2 linked regions of the Homo sapiens genome follow. The protein of the gene in region 1 purifies or fractionates together with the protein of each later gene. This does not show direct contact. Each region holds a gene or a part of one and is shown in the gene's direction. Other genes may lie near its edges.

Region 1 (7,094 bases):
TTCCTAAAAGGAATTGCTGAACATAAAAAGGAACAGGCTGTGCAGGAGCAGGGTGAGTCTGCAGACAACAAAGCCAGCAAGGTTGAGCCTCAGCAAAGGGGACTACACAGCTCGGGCTGGGAGGCTTCAGGCCCCAGGATGGGGGCCACACTTTCAAGACCTCCTTCTCCAGTCAACCTGCGGGCAGCCTCCCTAGGGCCTGGAACTGTCCAGATGCCCAGTGCTAAAATGTCTGGGTGATCACGGGCCTCTCAGGCAGAGCCTCGCAGTCATCCTGAAACTATTTGCTACGCACCCACTATATGCCAGACAATATTCCGAGCACTGGAGATGTCAGCAGTGAATAAAACAAACAAAAATCCCTGTCCTGATGAAGTTCTATTTAGTGGAGAAGATGCATAGTAGCATGTCAGAAAACGTCAAGTCCTATGGAGAAAAAACAAGCAGGAAAAGAGAACGAGGAATTTAGCATCTGCACCTCAAACAGTGGTCACATGTAGCTCCCACAGAGGTGACACAGTGTCAGAGGGTACCCAGGCCGGGAAGTAGGTTCTCACATACAGGCTATGCTGATGTTGGGTCATGGGCCACAGAGACTCACAGATGGGTGATCTGTCAGAGGCCAGACCCCAACCCCAGCCCCAGAAAGCTGCCCATCCCCTCTCTGAAGGCCTCTCAATCCTCTACCCTCAGACCATCTAGGCCTCTACTATGCAAGAGAAACAAGTTTCCACCCTGTGTCCTGTGCCAGCTCAGGTCTGGATGAGTTGAGACACTGGGCTCTGCTGTGTCACTGAGTCAACTCAGGCAACCCACTTCCTCACTCGGGTCTCAGTCTACTTGCCTATAAAATAGGGACAATGATCCCTGCCGAGTGAACAGTGAGTAGCAGCGAGGCTGGTGGCTGTTTAAGCGCCTACTGCTTTATCCTTCACCCTGCAAGTATGTTCCTGAAGAGCACCAGCCTTGGGGTCCACAAAAGCCCAGGGACAGCAGGGGCTGAGACCCAAATCTCAGTGTGCCTTTCAGTGTGAGCCACTGGACCCTTGTCCTGGAGACACTTGGGGACAAGAAGGGCCCAAGAGCAGTTAAGTTTGGGAAACTCAGCACACTCTACTTGCCTCTGGGAGATTCACAATGCTCACTGCCAAGTCCAGGCTTTGGGAAGATAACTCCAAGAACTGCGGGTGGATGGATGGATGGATGGATAGATAGATGAATATATCGTTCTACTCACTTCCAAATGGTAAGAATCACAGGGAGGAAAGTGAAAGCGATTCGAGCCCCAAGGACTCAGGGCAGAACCATTCACAGCCCCTCCAGACCACAAGTTTGGCTGGAAAACAGACGGAACTTATTCATTCATTGATTCATTTACACACCACAGAGTGGTAAGAGCAGCATTAGAGATTAGCACTGGGAACCATGGGAACCACCAGGAGGGGACAATTAACTAAATGTGGGGGTGAAGGCGGCCAGGGATGGCTTTCTGGAGGTGAGCCTGAAGGGTCCTTTGGGGGAACTGACCTCAGGGCTCCAGCCCTCATGCCATTTTCTCCAGCCACAAGAGTCATGCTTGGGGCTTCTTGGACTACATAGGCAGCTTCAATCTGATGGCTGTGGCCCCTTGGCCTCAACAGAATACATCTTGGAGCCCCCTTTTTACCCCAAACCCCCATTCCTCCTTGCTGTCAGCTGCTTGTGAGCCTTCTCACATCCAGAGAATGTATCAGCATTGTGCAGACTGAAAAGACCCAGAGGAACAAGGCTCCAATGGCAAAATTCCAAGTAGAATGACAAATAAATGGGGAGCCATCTGAGAGCAAGGGAGTCCTGCCCAACACCCGCCCCATGCCTTTCTCAGGGACCTCAGACCAGCCACTCACCTCCATCCTCCCAGCACCACCTGCAACCAGCCCCTTGCCCTCTGCAAACTGGAGCACGACTGGATCTTTAGATGGGGGAAAAATGCTTCATCATGTTCTGCTGCTTCATGCAAAACCAGAAACTCCCTCCCCCTCTTCCCTCCTCCCAGCGCACTCTCCTTCCAGTAAAAAGTGGTTAAAGGGACAGCGCCATCAATTTCCCAGCTCTGAGGGTCTGCTTAGAACTAGGGGGCTGGAAGGAGACAGAGGGCAAAGAGAAAGGAACTGGCAGAGGTCTTTCCTGGGGGATATGTCTGTTCTGTCCTGGGGATCCTGGAGCAGGAAAACCCGCGTAAAGTAGGGGTGTAGTGGGTGTTGAGATAACTGCCTGGGGGAGGTTCAGAGTGGAAGTACGAGTCTACAAACTCTCAAGGGCGTCTCAGGGCTCCCAGCATCCCCAGGGGTCCTTTCGCAGGGGTCCCTAAGCAGGAGGGGAACAGCCCAGAAAACACGGAACTGGACCCCCGACAGGAAGTCCAGGGAGGGGTCCCTGGCTCACTATGTGACCCTGCTGGATCACTTGCCTCCCCTCTCGGGTCCCCTCAGCACAGTGTCCCTCCCTTCCTTCCCCTAAAGTAAAAGCAGAGGGTTAATCTCTTTCCCCGCCCCACGCCCAACAAAGAGCAGGCCCTGTCCCCGGTGCTGAAGCGCCAGCCGCAGCACCACCCCCACTCCCACAGCATAAAACATGAGCCAAAACCAATAAAGAGCCAAATGTCACAGCCGTTGCAGGGCCCCCTAAATCCTGGGGACCCCTTCTTCTACCTGACATCCTATTGGGGTGAGGGACTTTGGTACTCAGAAAGCATCTCATCACTTCCCTGTAAGAGAGAAGGGATGCCGACTCAGGCGCCTGCTTGTCTGTTACAGGAGTGGGGGAAGAGAGGACAAGTTGAGGCTGAGAAGATGGGGAGGGGGAGGGAGAAAAGAGGACTTCCTAGTGTTGACAGAACGGCAAGATGTGGGTTCCCCATCCCCAGTTCAGCCAGAGACCCCTCAAAGTGGAACTTCCTGGGGCAGTCGGGGGTCAGGAGTTGGAGCTTGTCTCTGGGGCAAGACCCCTTCGTTGTACAGATGGAAAAACAAGGGTGGGAGGACACAGCTTGTCCAAGGTCATTCGACCAGCAAACTGCCTAGCTGACCCCAGTGTGCAGAAGCTGGCTCGGGTGACACCCATCATTTCCCCCCACCCCACACAGGGGCCAGCTCTCTCAACTTCATGCCCAAGCCCTCCTACGGTACCCCCACTGTAGGTTCTCTGCCCCTCAAACTCAGCCCAGCTTTCTCCTGCCTGTTCAGGGGACCTTCTGCCCGCTTCGCTGAGGGTCCGTCCCCTTTACTGGGGCTGGCAGCAGGGTCTCCCATCTCCTCTCTCGGGGGCCACTGCAGACTTTTTAGAGAACGCCTTGCCTCCCCCCAACCCCACCCATCCGGGGTTCCCTCTCTCCATCCTCTGCAGTGTCTCCCATACCCCCATTCAGGGTAGCCTTGCTATTCTCCCCAACTCCAGGTCCCCCTTCATCTATTCCGGGGCTGGCCGCGGAGTTTCCTGAGCGCTCTCCAAGTGGGTCCTCTAGATGTTAGGAGAACACTGTACCTCCCCCGGTCAGGGGTCTCCTGTCTCCGTTCTATGGAGCGTCCATGCTCCCATTCAGGACTGCCTTGCTCCCTCCTCTGTTCCGGGGCTGGCTGCACAGTCTCTGCACCCCCTATCCTGAAAGCCTCTCTTAACTATTTGGAAAGCCTCGTGTCCTGTCTCATACAGGGATCCCCTCATCCTAATGACTGCAATCTTCCATTGCTCCATCCCGAGGGCATCCTGCCCCTATTCCCATCAGGTTTCTCCTTGTCCTCTCCCTGTTTCAAGTCCCCTTTCTTATTCCGAACACACTCGCAGGCTCTTCCGACGCGCACCCGGGGGTCCTCACTGGCCCACTCCGGGAGTCCTCTGCCCGCTTCCCCGACCTCGAGGGTCTCCTCTGACGCAGCGTCGATTCCCCTTCCCTCCTCGGTCCCCTGCCCCGCCCCTCTCACTGCGGCGGAGCCGGTCGGCCGGGGGGCCGCAGGGGAGGAGGCGGAGAGGGCGGGGCCCTCCTCCCCACCCTCTCACTGCCAAGGGGTTGGACCCGGCCGCGGCGGCTATAAAAGGGCCGGCGCCCTGGTGCTGCCGCAGTGCCTCCCGCCCCGTCCCGGCCTCGCGCACCTGCTCAGGCCATGATGAGCTTCGGCGGCGCGGACGCGCTGCTGGGCGCCCCGTTCGCGCCGCTGCATGGCGGCGGCAGCCTCCACTACGCGCTAGCCCGAAAGGGTGGCGCAGGCGGGACGCGCTCCGCCGCTGGCTCCTCCAGCGGCTTCCACTCGTGGACACGGACGTCCGTGAGCTCCGTGTCCGCCTCGCCCAGCCGCTTCCGTGGCGCAGGCGCCGCCTCAAGCACCGACTCGCTGGACACGCTGAGCAACGGGCCGGAGGGCTGCATGGTGGCGGTGGCCACCTCACGCAGTGAGAAGGAGCAGCTGCAGGCGCTGAACGACCGCTTCGCCGGGTACATCGACAAGGTGCGGCAGCTGGAGGCGCACAACCGCAGCCTGGAGGGCGAGGCTGCGGCGCTGCGGCAGCAGCAGGCGGGCCGCTCCGCTATGGGCGAGCTGTACGAGCGCGAGGTCCGCGAGATGCGCGGCGCGGTGCTGCGCCTGGGCGCGGCGCGCGGTCAGCTACGCCTGGAGCAGGAGCACCTGCTCGAGGACATCGCGCACGTGCGCCAGCGCCTAGACGACGAGGCCCGGCAGCGAGAGGAGGCCGAGGCGGCGGCCCGCGCGCTGGCGCGCTTCGCGCAGGAGGCCGAGGCGGCGCGCGTGGACCTGCAGAAGAAGGCGCAGGCGCTGCAGGAGGAGTGCGGCTACCTGCGGCGCCACCACCAGGAAGAGGTGGGCGAGCTGCTCGGCCAGATCCAGGGCTCCGGCGCCGCGCAGGCGCAGATGCAGGCCGAGACGCGCGACGCCCTGAAGTGCGACGTGACGTCGGCGCTGCGCGAGATTCGCGCGCAGCTTGAAGGCCACGCGGTGCAGAGCACGCTGCAGTCCGAGGAGTGGTTCCGAGGTACGCAGGCGCGCGGGTGGGGGGAGGGGCGCCCCTGCTGACCCCGCAGCGAACTTTTGGGCTGCGTGACCCAAGGGGGCGCTGCCGGACTGCGCGTGGAGTGGCGCGCTGCTCACCTTCCCTCTGCAAAGTGCATGCCCCTAGTTAAATCGCAGTTTTACTCTGGGTCTCTTGTGGGACGCCCCAACTCTGGGTTGTCCTTCGGTTCCCCCTTTCCAGGTTCTTTACGGCTGTACTTCAACTCTGGGCCCCCTGCTGCTCTCTACCCCAAGCTTAGGCGACCCCACTCTGAGATCCCTCCCCCGTCAAGAAAAAAACAAGTTTCCTCTACAGGAAAAAAGTGGTGCAGGATTCTGGTCTGCAAGCGCTGGAGACTCTTAGCCCTTCTAAGTAGCAAGGCTTCCCCGCCAATGCTGCCATGCCCTCTCCTACACCCCGCAAGAAACTCTATTCCTCTCACCCCTACCAGGCTCCTTCCCACTACCTGCTCAGTGCTTAACGTTCCTACCTTAAATCTTCCACGTGGGGGTGGGTCAGGACCTTTTCGCATCCTTTCTTCCTAGAGGGAACCATTACTACAGTCAGTTGTTGCCTGTGGCGGAGGTGGCTGGTGGGCCCTTTCATGTTTTAATGTCCCCTTTCTCCTTTAGGGAAGCTGGGAGCCTCCCAAGTCTGCCCCTCCCCCAACTCCTTGCAGCCCTGAGTCAGCTAGATTGCGCTGCCCTGAGGCTGTGCCCAGCAGCTGCAGGGTGACCTTGACCAACACTTGCCCTCTCTGGTTTTCATTTCTTTTTGAGTTGAAAGAGGAGGGTAGATCAACTGGGCTGCTTAATCCGGGGAGTTCCATGATGTCTCACGAAACTGTCTGTAAAACTTTGCGTTGTTTTTGAGAGAGAGGGCAGAGGCTTCAGTGATTTTCCAAAAGCATCTGTGATCGACAATAGTTGAGAATCTCCAACCACCTGGATGGTTTCTAAGTCTTTGCCAGCACTAGCAGGGAAAGCTGGGATTTTGATGCATAGCTTTTTCTGTTCCTTTTCCACTCCTCTGCAGAGCAGAACCATCCCCTCCTCCATCTCCGCAGCAAGGCCCCTCCCTGCGCAAACCTCTTTTGGGTTTGCCAGTCGTAGGGGCAGACGTCCCAGGATTGTACTGGCCCACTCAGCTGGCTTCCTTCCTCCCCGCCAAGACTTGTGCCCTGAGTGCCACTATCTGGGGATTCAGGATGTTCACTTTTACGAGCTAAAGACCAGTCTCCAGACCTCCACTGCCTCTGGAAGGTTTCCTGGGAACCACGAGCGGGTTGCTGGCGGGGGCCGGGGTGTGGCTACCAATGCTCAGGGGCAATGCTCAGCTAGGTGGAGAAAGGGACAGGGGTTGGCACCCAGGCCACGGGCTCTGCACTGACCTTGGACTGTGCGCAGAAACCTGTAAGGAAGGGACCATGGCTACAAGGTGACCTGATTGCTCACGGTACCCTCATGCCTCCTAAAGGTCACAAGCTCATTAACTTGTTCAGCCACAAACCTGCAGCCTCCAGCTCAGTGTTAAGCCCCATGGGCCAGGTATCACATCTGAACCACCAGCACTGCCAGGCCCTTGCTAGGGAGCTGGACCAGGCATTAGGACCAGGGTTTCCTCTGCCCTGCAGGGTTTTTGGATCCCACACTGGGGGAGACAGAGCATGATCTTTGGGGATTTGAGTCCCAGCTCTGCCACTCACTAGCTGGGTGGCCTTGGGGAGTAGTCACTTGCCTTTATCTCACAGGACAGAGTGAGTCAAGCATACAGGATGGTGTCTGGCACACGCAGTAGGTCAATCCACATGTGTCACCTTCAAAATCTGGGCATTAGGCCGGGCGTGGTGGCTCACACCTGTAATTCCAGCTCTTTGGGAGGCCGAGGTGGGCGAATCATGAGGTCAGGAGTTCAAGACCGCCTGGCGAATGTGGCAAAACCCCATCTCTACTAAAAATACAAAAAATTAGCTGGGCGTAGTGGCAGGTGCCTGTAATCCCAGCTACTCGGGAGGCTGAGGCAGGAGAATCGCTTGAACCCAGGAGGCGGAGCTT
Region 2 (9,611 bases), on another chromosome or scaffold:
AAGCGGTTCTCCTGCCTCAGCCTCCAGAGTAGCTGGGATTACAGGCATGCGCCACCATGCCCCACTAATTTTGTATTTTTAATAGAGACGGGGTTTCACCGTGTTGGTCAGGCTGGCCTCAAACTCCTCACCTCAGGTGATCTGCCCGCCTTGGCCTCCCAAAGCGCTGGGATTACAGGCGTGAGCCACCGCGCTCGGCCAGTTATTTTGCAGTTTTAGGGATAAGCAATGGTGCTTCCATGCTTCCTGCAACTCCCATTTCCTCTGTTACAGAAAGCAAATCCTGTGGCCTCTTAACGGAATATTAGGGGATTTACCCCTATGTCTTGACATAGTATATCTTAGTTATATCATAAAATATATTGTCACAGTTAAAATTTTGGTTAAATGTGTGTTCAGCATTTATAAAATTATGACTGTAAATGCTGCTTGCAGGTGATCTATGTAGGAAACTGATCATTTTTCTCTTCCTGCAAGTTTTTCATATGATTTTGACGTTTTAAAATGTGTTCGGTTCTTTCTATACTTACCACGAATTCCTCCTTAAATTCTTAACCAGTTGACTAAATCTTTCCTCTACAAAATCAGATCATCAGAGGTTTTCCTGAAGAAGTTTCTCCCAGAGTCCCCTTACATGCCCAGATGTCGCAGGTTTCTCCCTGTGCCTGGTGCACAGACCTCACGCTTACCCCGGGATTCCCTTCACCTGGGTGTTCTGTTGAGTCTCATTTCCTGTAGTTCATATCTTCCTCTTTTTTGCTTTACTCACTTGTGTCAGTGCAGTGCATTCTCTAGCAGTTTCCTGAAATAGGATTTTTTTAAGGTCTTGTTTGTCTGATAATTCCATCAAATGCTCCTTTATGTCTGCCATCATGTTTTTCTCTCATTTCCATTTGACGCTTTTGGAGTTTCTCTCCTGAAAATCCCCATCTGCTCATCTGTTTATGCATATTGTTTACCTTTTCCACAAGATCCTTTAGCATATCAATTATAGTTATCTGCAAGTTCGATACCTGGACCATCTAAGTTTGGCTTTGTTTTCTGTTGTAGTGTTTGGCTATGGAGTCGCTTTTTTTTATGTCTTACTATAATAACAGTAGAGATGGAAGTAAATATTTCTGCCTGGGATAGGCACCGTTACTTTGTGGCATTGAGTTAGTCTAGTTTGTAGTTGAGCTGGGTTTGGCGTTGGTTGCTGTATTTGTTTTCAGTGCACTTTACAAACTTTTCCCAGATTTTGTGGCTACTTGCTTAGCTGAAGCCTGGAGTCTCGAAAGGTTTTTCTCCAGCCTGGGAGGCCTGTGCCACCGATGGAGGTCTTCAGCCAAGGCTTCGTCCCTCCCTCAGGGGTAGACTGCTGATGCTTGTTCCCTGGTGCAAGAGATGAGGCAGGGGCTTTTCATTTCTTCCACTGCAGCCTTGTATTTAGGCCCCATGTGTCTGAGCGTCAGCATTCCTGCTCTTTCGCTGTCTGTGCTCCCTCTCCAGTGGCAATAATCGTTGCCTCCAACTTAGGGGTGCGTTTAGGTTCCTGGCCCTAACCTGTGGCAGCTGCATTCTGCGTGAGTGTCTGTGGTAGGTCTTGGGTGTAGCGTCCTGCCCTCCTCCAGCACCTGCAGACCAGCTTTGTATCAGTGCAGGATATCTGGCAGTAGGGGGTTTGCTTCCCCTTCCACAGAATAAGATGCATTCGCCTAGTGTCAGTGCCGAGTGAAGGGAGCAGGTTCTATCCCTGCCCTAGAGGCAGGCAACTTTTGCTTGTATCAAGGCAGGGACAAGGGTGAGAGTGTGGGAGGGGCAGACAGCTTTGGCTTCCTGTCGGAGAAGGGTCCAGGGGGACAGGCACGTTTTGGCAGTTGATCACCATCTTGTACTCCTGCAGGGCATGGCTGGGCCTCTCTAGTTAGTCCTGCTGCCCTGGGTGCCTGCGCCTCTGAAGATCTCCTGCCCTGGCCACAGTCTCTCTCGAGAGCACCGGGGCAGGCTTGAAGAAAAGAGCTGGTGAATGGATGTGGACTCCCTCAGCAAGCTGTGAGGCTAGCCCACCTTGGTCTTTAAAAACTTGTCAAAATGCCATTTTTAAAACTGCTTTTTGGGTGACCATGTCTTGCTCCTGTGCCAGAAGTAGAACAGATAAGTGGCCTTTCCATTCTTGGAGCGCCTTCCTTCCTTTTAGAATTCAGGTTGCATTGTGACCTCAGTTCTGATGCTCCCCCCACCCACCGCACAACAGTTTAGGATTTTGTAGATTTTTCAGCCTTTCCTCTTTGTATGACAATAACGATCTCCTATGGTTTTCTATGTCCTAATGAGCAACTGAAACGATACATATCTAAATGCCTTTATTTTGTCCTCATATTTCATTGATGGTTTGACTGAGGGTAGAATTCGAGCCTGGAAGATATTTCCATTCAAAATTTTAAAGGTATCTATCTATTGTCCCAGAAGCTAGAGCTTCCAGTATTGCTGTTGAGAAATCTGAAACCATTCTGAATCCTGTTTATTTATACAGGAACTGTTTCTCTCTATGGAAGTGTGTAGGATCAGTGGCTCTAGCATTCTGAAATTTCACAGTTTTGATAGGAGTCTATTTTCATCCTTGTGCTGGGCACTTGCTGGACCTCCTGTGCAATCTGGAAATCATGTTCTTCAGTTCTGGGAAATTTTCTAGAATATTCTGTGGATTATTTCGTCCCTTTCTGTTTTCTGTTCTTTTTTTAGATATTGAACTTCCTGGACTTTCTTGAAAGCATCTTTTCTCTCCTAAGGATTTTCTATGATTTTGGATTGAGTTTTTTTTTTTAAATGTCCCCTTTGTGTGTGTGTGTGTGTGTGTGTGTGTGTGTGTGTGTGTGTGTTTTAGAGACAAATCCTCGCTCTTGCCCAGGCTAGGGTGCAGTGGCGTGATTATAGCTCACTATAACTTCAAAATACTGGGCTCAAGTGATCCTCTCATCTCAGCCTCCAGAGAAGCTGGGACGATAGGTGTGCACCACCATGCCCTGATAATTTTTTAAATTTCCTTGTAGAGACAGGGTCTTGCTATGTTGTACCAGGCTGGTCTCAAGCTCCTGGCCTCAAGCAATCCTCCTGCCTCAGCCTCCCAAAGTGTTGGGATTACAGGCATGAGCCACCAAGCCTGGTCAGAATGTCCCCTTTTTAATAATATCCTGTTCTTATAATACTACTATCTTCTTAAGATATTGCTGAAAACTCTTTTAAAAGTTTTCTTCTACCTGTGTAATTTTGTTTTCTCCAATTTCCTCCTCCCACTCCATTTGTTTTGGTCTTGATCTTTAGTGTAGAGGTTTCCCCAACTGTCTGATGATTCTTAGATCCCTATTTATGTTTAAGGATAAGAAATCAAAATTGGGTTTAAAGCTCTAAGCCCATGAGTGGTGCTGTTGACTGAACTTCACCATAAGGTGATTTGGCCAAGCCATTTCATTAAGGAATCTCTGATATATTTTCAGATCTTTCCTCCTGGGCTGGCCAGATTCTGCAGAGAACATCTTCCAGTTGTCTGATGCATAGTGAGGGCCTGGCCAGCATTCTAGGACCTGAGGGGGCAGGTAGAGAGGAGTCGCAGCACCCAGGGTGCACACATGTTCGCTGAATCCCCTTTGTCAGTAGGACTAATGTCTGCTGTGTCCTGTGCCTCCCAATTCAGAGACGCACTATTTTACCTTCTCCAGAAAAGCAGTTCTAGTCTTTTCCTGTTCAGGACATAGGAAAGTGGCCTGGGGATGTGACTGTTTCTTAAACACTGAACACATCCTCTTTGGTTTAGCCTCACTTTTCACTCCACTTACCAGAGTAACTTTTGCAGCCACTTCCTTTGGTTCCGGGGGATTTTGCAGCATAAATCAAATTGTTTCCTGGCTTTCCCTTTGTCAACTTAAAATTCTCATGACTTGAGTCAACTTGGTTTTCATCTGATTTTCAGATTCTGTATTTTATTGCTGTTGTCTGCCCCCAGTGTTCTCCATTCTTTTGGGGTTTTGCCCTTGAAAAATCCTTTACTGTTATAGTGAGATTCTTAGGGAGAGAAAGTAGAGTTTATATGTGCAAATCTGCCATTTTTACCCAGAACTCCAAAACAGTAATCTTAGTGCAAAAAAAAATCTCCCTCTGAGATTCCCAAGCCCCCTATCCAGGCTCTGATACAGGGGCACCTCCATTATTAGAGAATCCATTTGGTAATAGTGGCATTATTTTAAGAACTGCTGTCATTGAGAAACTTATGAAATTTGCAAAAGGAAGAACTAATTTTCTTTTTTAAACCATATCAGGCCCAAGTCTGTTTTGGTGGTCTGAGAGGAAAAAAGATGAGCTTCTAAAGTTTTGGGAAAATTATATTTTAATTATGGAGACTTTAGAAGGAAATCAGGTAAGTGTTTTTCTATTTTAGCAAATCCTACAGTAGATAACAATTTTTCTTTTTTAAAAACATTCATTAAAAGCGATACAAAGAGACTAACTCAGATATAGCTGGTGATGATAGAATCCAAGTATACTTTGTTGTCTGGCATAAATGCAACTTAGAGTGTAAGTTGTTTCAGGAAGTTAAAGAATACTTTCAGTTGACAAATTATTCAAAAATTTGATCTTCCCTTGCCATTCTAAAACTTTAACGTTTATCAGTATCAGTATCACCCAAATGGCTTATTATAAAGTATAAATTGCCATGCCCTGTCCTCAGACTTTCTGGTTCAGTAGGTCGGGGTGGGGCCTGGGACTTTTGAGTTTTTTTTTTTTTTTTTTTTTTTTTTTTGGAGACAGAGTCTTGCTCTCTCGCCCAGGCTGGGGTTCAGTGGCACGATCTCAGCTCACTGCAACATCCGCCTCCTGGGTTCAAGTGATTCTCCTGCCTCAGCCTCCCAAGTAGCTGGGACTACAGCCACGACACTGGCTAATTTTTGTATTTTTAGTAGAGATGGGGTTCCACCATGTTGGCCAGGCTGGTCTTGCACTCCTGACCTCAAGTAATCCACCCGCCTTGGCCTCCCAAAGTGCTGGGATTACAGGCGTGAGCCACCGCACCCGTCCAGGACTTTTGAGTTTTTTACAAGTTCCCAGGTGATATGTATGCTGCTGTTCTGGGAACTACACTTTGAGAACCATGGTTTCCATTCTGCAAGTTGGGGACCACAGAGGTGCCAGCCATCTGTGGAGTCATTGTGAGGTGTCAATCCAAATGTGCACCAAACCTTGTTTGTGGACTTAAATAATTACTTATATGTGCTAAATATATATAGATGCAAGGATGAGGAGTAAAGAAAAAGCATTTCTAAATTCAAATTAACTTTTATGGTTTTCTTTAATCAGTAGATCCATAAAACCCCCATTATTTATTTAGAAACCCAAATTTATCCATATTTTGAAGGATATGTAAATTAATCTCAAGCAAACGTGTCAGCAACTTTGGCTATGTGGTATTAAGAACATGGAACTCCGAACTGGCCGTTCTAAGCGTGTGCAGCCATGAACAACTTGAGTGACTAGAGAAAACATTTCAGTGTCTTTTTTCTCTTTGTAATATCTTAGTATTGGCAGTCCTACCTGCCTGCCAGGACAGTTGAGGATTCTATGACATGATTTATGATAATCACTGTATAAATGGTAGACTTTAATGTAGCTGTAATGTGGTTATATTCATTAGCTTTGCCATACTCAGTCTTACATACCTGAATCATACTATTGTTTGAAAAACTGGATAAATCAGGCTCTTTCTACATATGTTTTGTAGAAACAGAAGAGCTACTGTGAAATAAAGAGATGAAAATTGCCTGACATTTTTCAAGATGCATTTTCATTTCATATGATTTTTTTGCTCTTATTTTTAGATACATGTTATAAAGCCAGTTTTACCAAAGCTAAACAATCTGTTTGAATATGCGGTGTCAGAGGAAAATGGTAACGATTACTTTTATTTTATTTTTTAATAACATTTATGGTTTTCCCCTGATTTTGTAACTAATTCCTGTTCATTGTAGAGAATTTTGAAAAACTATAAAAGTGTACAGAAGAAAATATAATCATCTTGTAATGCTGCCACCAAGAGATAACAGTTGTTACCATTCCAGATACACACCTTCTGGATCATGTTGTTCATGTTTATCTCACTTAGCATAATAACTATATGCATCTACTCATATCCTTAAATCGTCTTTAAGAGCACAATTTTGGGCCAGGCGTGGTGGCTTATGCCTGTAATCCCAGCACTTTGGGAGGCAGAGGTGGGCGGATCACCTGAGGTCAGGAGTTCAAGACCAGCCTGGCCAACATAGTGAAACTCCGTCTCTACTAAAAATACAAAAATTAGCCAGGCATGGTGGTGTGTGCCTGTAGTCCCAGCTACTCGAGAGGCTGAGGCAAGAGAATCACTCGAATCCAGGAGGCGGAGGTTGCAGTGAGCCAAGATCACACTGCTGCACTCCAGGCTGGTGACAGAGCAAGACTCCGTCTCAAAAAAAAAAAAAAGAACACAATTTAAAATAGCCACAGAATTTTCTACAATTAAGAGATAAGGTTAATTTTTTAAACCGTTGATGATGGAGAATTTCAAACATTTATAGAATGAGAAGAGTGTGTGTGACGCACCTACCACCCTCTTTAATAACGATCGTCTCACGGCCAGCCTTGCTTAGTGTATCCTATGTAGCCTTCCCTGTTCCCTTCTTGCTAAATGGTTTTGAAGCACATCCCTAGATATCCTATCATTTTATCTGTGAATATTTCAGCACATTTCTTTAAAAGATAAGGACTCGTCGATAGGGTTTCAATGATGACATAGTCTGTGGTTTTAATAATTGCTCTTTTTTTTTGTTTTTGAGATGTGGAGTCTTGCAATCTGTTGCCCAGGCTGGAGTGCAGTGGGATGATCTCGGCTCACTGCAACCTCTGCTTCCCGGGTTCAGGCAATTTTTTTGCCTCGGCCTCCCAAGCAGCTGAGATTACAGGCATGCGCCACCACACCTGGCTAATTTTTGTATTTTTAGTAGAGACGGGGTTTTGCCACGTTGGCCAGGCTGGTCTCAAACTCCTAACCTCAGGTGATCCACCTGCCTCAGCCTCCCAAAGTGCTGGGATTACAGGTGTGAGCCACCGTGCCTGGCCAATAATCACTCTTTGGTATGAATATATCTTTTTAACTGGTTTCCATTCTTATTCTCTTAGTATATCTTTTCCAGTGTTTCTTAAGTTTTCAGTTATTGTTCTGTATCTTGTACTTCTTAGGAAGAGAAAATTCCGGGATATAATTTCAAATGTGTTTATAAGCCCTTGATCACTATATTATGAGAGCTTTTTAGGAGATACACAATGAAGCTGGAGCTTCCTAAATGTATTTTATAAAATTAAGTTTAATGAAATAGCTAAATGCAGCCCAATAGTGTTTTGGCCTGTGTTCATATGAATGATAAAATGCCACATTATTGTGTTTACACATGAGAATTAACCTAGGTAAATGGTTTTTAGTGCCTACTCTAGATAATTACAGTTTAATAGTTTGACCCCTTAGGAATTGAGCTTTATTCAGCTGATTGCTGTAGTTGTTTTCTGATACACTGGGATTTTTCACAGACCATAAGCATCTGTAGTTGCACCTGGGGCTAGAATTTAATTGAATCTTGTTGTGACTTCACTTATTCATTTACCATTAAAATGATGCTCTTATTACCACATTTTGCCCACAGCTCTTGAGAAACCAAATCAAATAGCAGTGACTGATTTTGAAAAATTACCATTGCCAAAGAGTTGAACAAGCATCTTGGTGTAAATTACAAATAATGGATTAATTTATTTATAGAATGTCATGAGTTAAAAATGCTGAGTATTTTTCTCTAATAGAAGTAAAAGATATTTCAAAAGAGTTAGAAAAATATCTCTAAGATATTTATTTATTCCATGGTTTTGATTTGCTCACTCATTTATATATTTACTGAATAAATATTTACTTAGTGTCCAGTACATGCTATTAGGTTGGTGCGAAAGTCGTTGCGGTTTTTGCCTTTTTTTTTTTTTTAAAAAAAAAAAAAAAAAGGCAAAAACCGCAACGACTTTCGCACCAACCTAGTAATTATTGGGGGTAAAATGGTGAGAGAGATGTGGTATTTTTCACCTGACTTTTGTGTTTTCCATGAAAAAATAGTTTTGATTGTAAGATATATGAGGGGAACAGACAAGGGGCTGATGAAATGGACTCAAGGGTGAGTGGGGTAGTCAGGGAAGGCCTGTCTTATGATGACATCTAAGCTAAGAGTCCAGGCTGAGAAGGCACCACCTGGGACACAAGCCCTGAGATGGGAGCAGCTGTAGGAGGCAGAACAGAAGGACCAGCAGGGCTGCAGCAGAGTTGGTGTGTGGAGTGGGGGATGAGGTTGGAGTGGCAGTCAAGGTCAGTTCATGCCTTGTTTGGACTTTATTCTAAGAACAATGAGGAGATGTTGAAGGATTTTAAGCAGAGGCGTGACAATTTCATATTTCTGTGTGAAAAATGGATTGAAGTGGGATAAGAGAAGAATTGGTTGAAACTATTCCAAATCTGAAGTTCCAACCTGCATGCATGGGGTAATATTTAATTTTTGTACACTGTAGCAGTTACAGCATTCGTTTACAGTCTTTCTTATTTTTTCAAGACAGAGTCTCACTCTGTTGCCCAAGCTGGAGTGCAGTGGCGGGGCCTGGGCTCACTCTAACCTCCGCCTCCCAAGTTCAAGGGTTCAAGCGATTCTCGTGTCTCAGTCCCTCCCCCACCAGTAGCTGGGATTACAGGCATACACCACCATGCCTGGCTGATTTCTGTGTTTTTTAGTAGAGATGGAGTTTTGCCATGTTGGCCAGGCTGGTCTCAAACTCCTGGCCTCATGTGATCCATCTGCCTCGGCCTCCCAAAGTGCTTGGATTACAGGCATGAGCCACCATGCCTGGCCCATTTACAGTCTTTCAAAATTAAGCTGCCTGAATACGGAATACTGAATACCAAAATTTTTTTGGTTGACATACTCAGATGTGACTAAAAACAGTCTGGGTGCGGTGGCTCATACCTGTAATCCCAGTGCTTTGGCAGGCCGAGGATGGAGGATCACTTGAACTCAGGAGTTTGAGACCAACCTAGGCAACATTCTGAGACCATGTTTCTAAAAAATATTTTAAAAATTGTCTAGGCGTGGTTTGCATACCTGTAGTCCTGCTAGGAAACTACTCAGGAAGCTGAGGCAGGAGGATCGCTTGAGCCCTGGAGTTTGAGGCTGCAGTGAGCTAGAATTTTGCAATTGCACTGCAGTCTGGGTGACACAGTGAGAACCTGTCTCTCAAAAAACAGTAACAAAAACTTCTTGTAGTGTTATAATGAAGTTATTGTGTGTGTTTGTACATTATTTATGAGTATGTAGTCTTGATGGTGAAATGAAGACAGAATCAGATGTCAACATTTGATGTTTGTTTCCACAGGATGTTGGCTCTTTCACCCATCCTGGCATATGTGTATTTATAAAAGAATGTTTGAAAGTGAAAACAAAATCCTGTCCAAAGAAGGTGTTATCCATTTTTTGGAGCTGTATGAAACAAAGATTCTTCCATTTTCACCAGAATTTTCTGAGGTAATGACA

Evidence for each region.
Region 2: the proteins of NEFH (region 1) and TARBP1 purify together in Homo sapiens (affinity purification with mass spectrometry; 2 studies listed by BioGRID and IntAct, with this or other methods). This does not show direct contact.

Annotation. Positions count from the first base shown.
Region 1 is NC_000022.11:29,476,124-29,483,217, forward strand, and holds the start of NEFH (neurofilament heavy polypeptide), read left to right. Parts: upstream 1-4,094; 5' UTR 4,095-4,139; coding exon 4,140-5,022; intron 5,023-7,094. UniProt on the Homo sapiens protein: Neurofilaments usually contain three intermediate filament proteins: NEFL, NEFM, and NEFH which are involved in the maintenance of neuronal caliber. NEFH has an important function in mature axons that is not subserved by the two smaller NF proteins.
Region 2 is NC_000001.11:234,467,493-234,477,103, reverse strand, and holds part of TARBP1 (tRNA (guanosine(18)-2'-O)-methyltransferase TARBP1), read left to right. Parts: intron 1-4,292; coding exon 4,293-4,390; intron 4,391-5,846; coding exon 5,847-5,916; intron 5,917-9,453; coding exon 9,454-9,602; intron 9,603-9,611.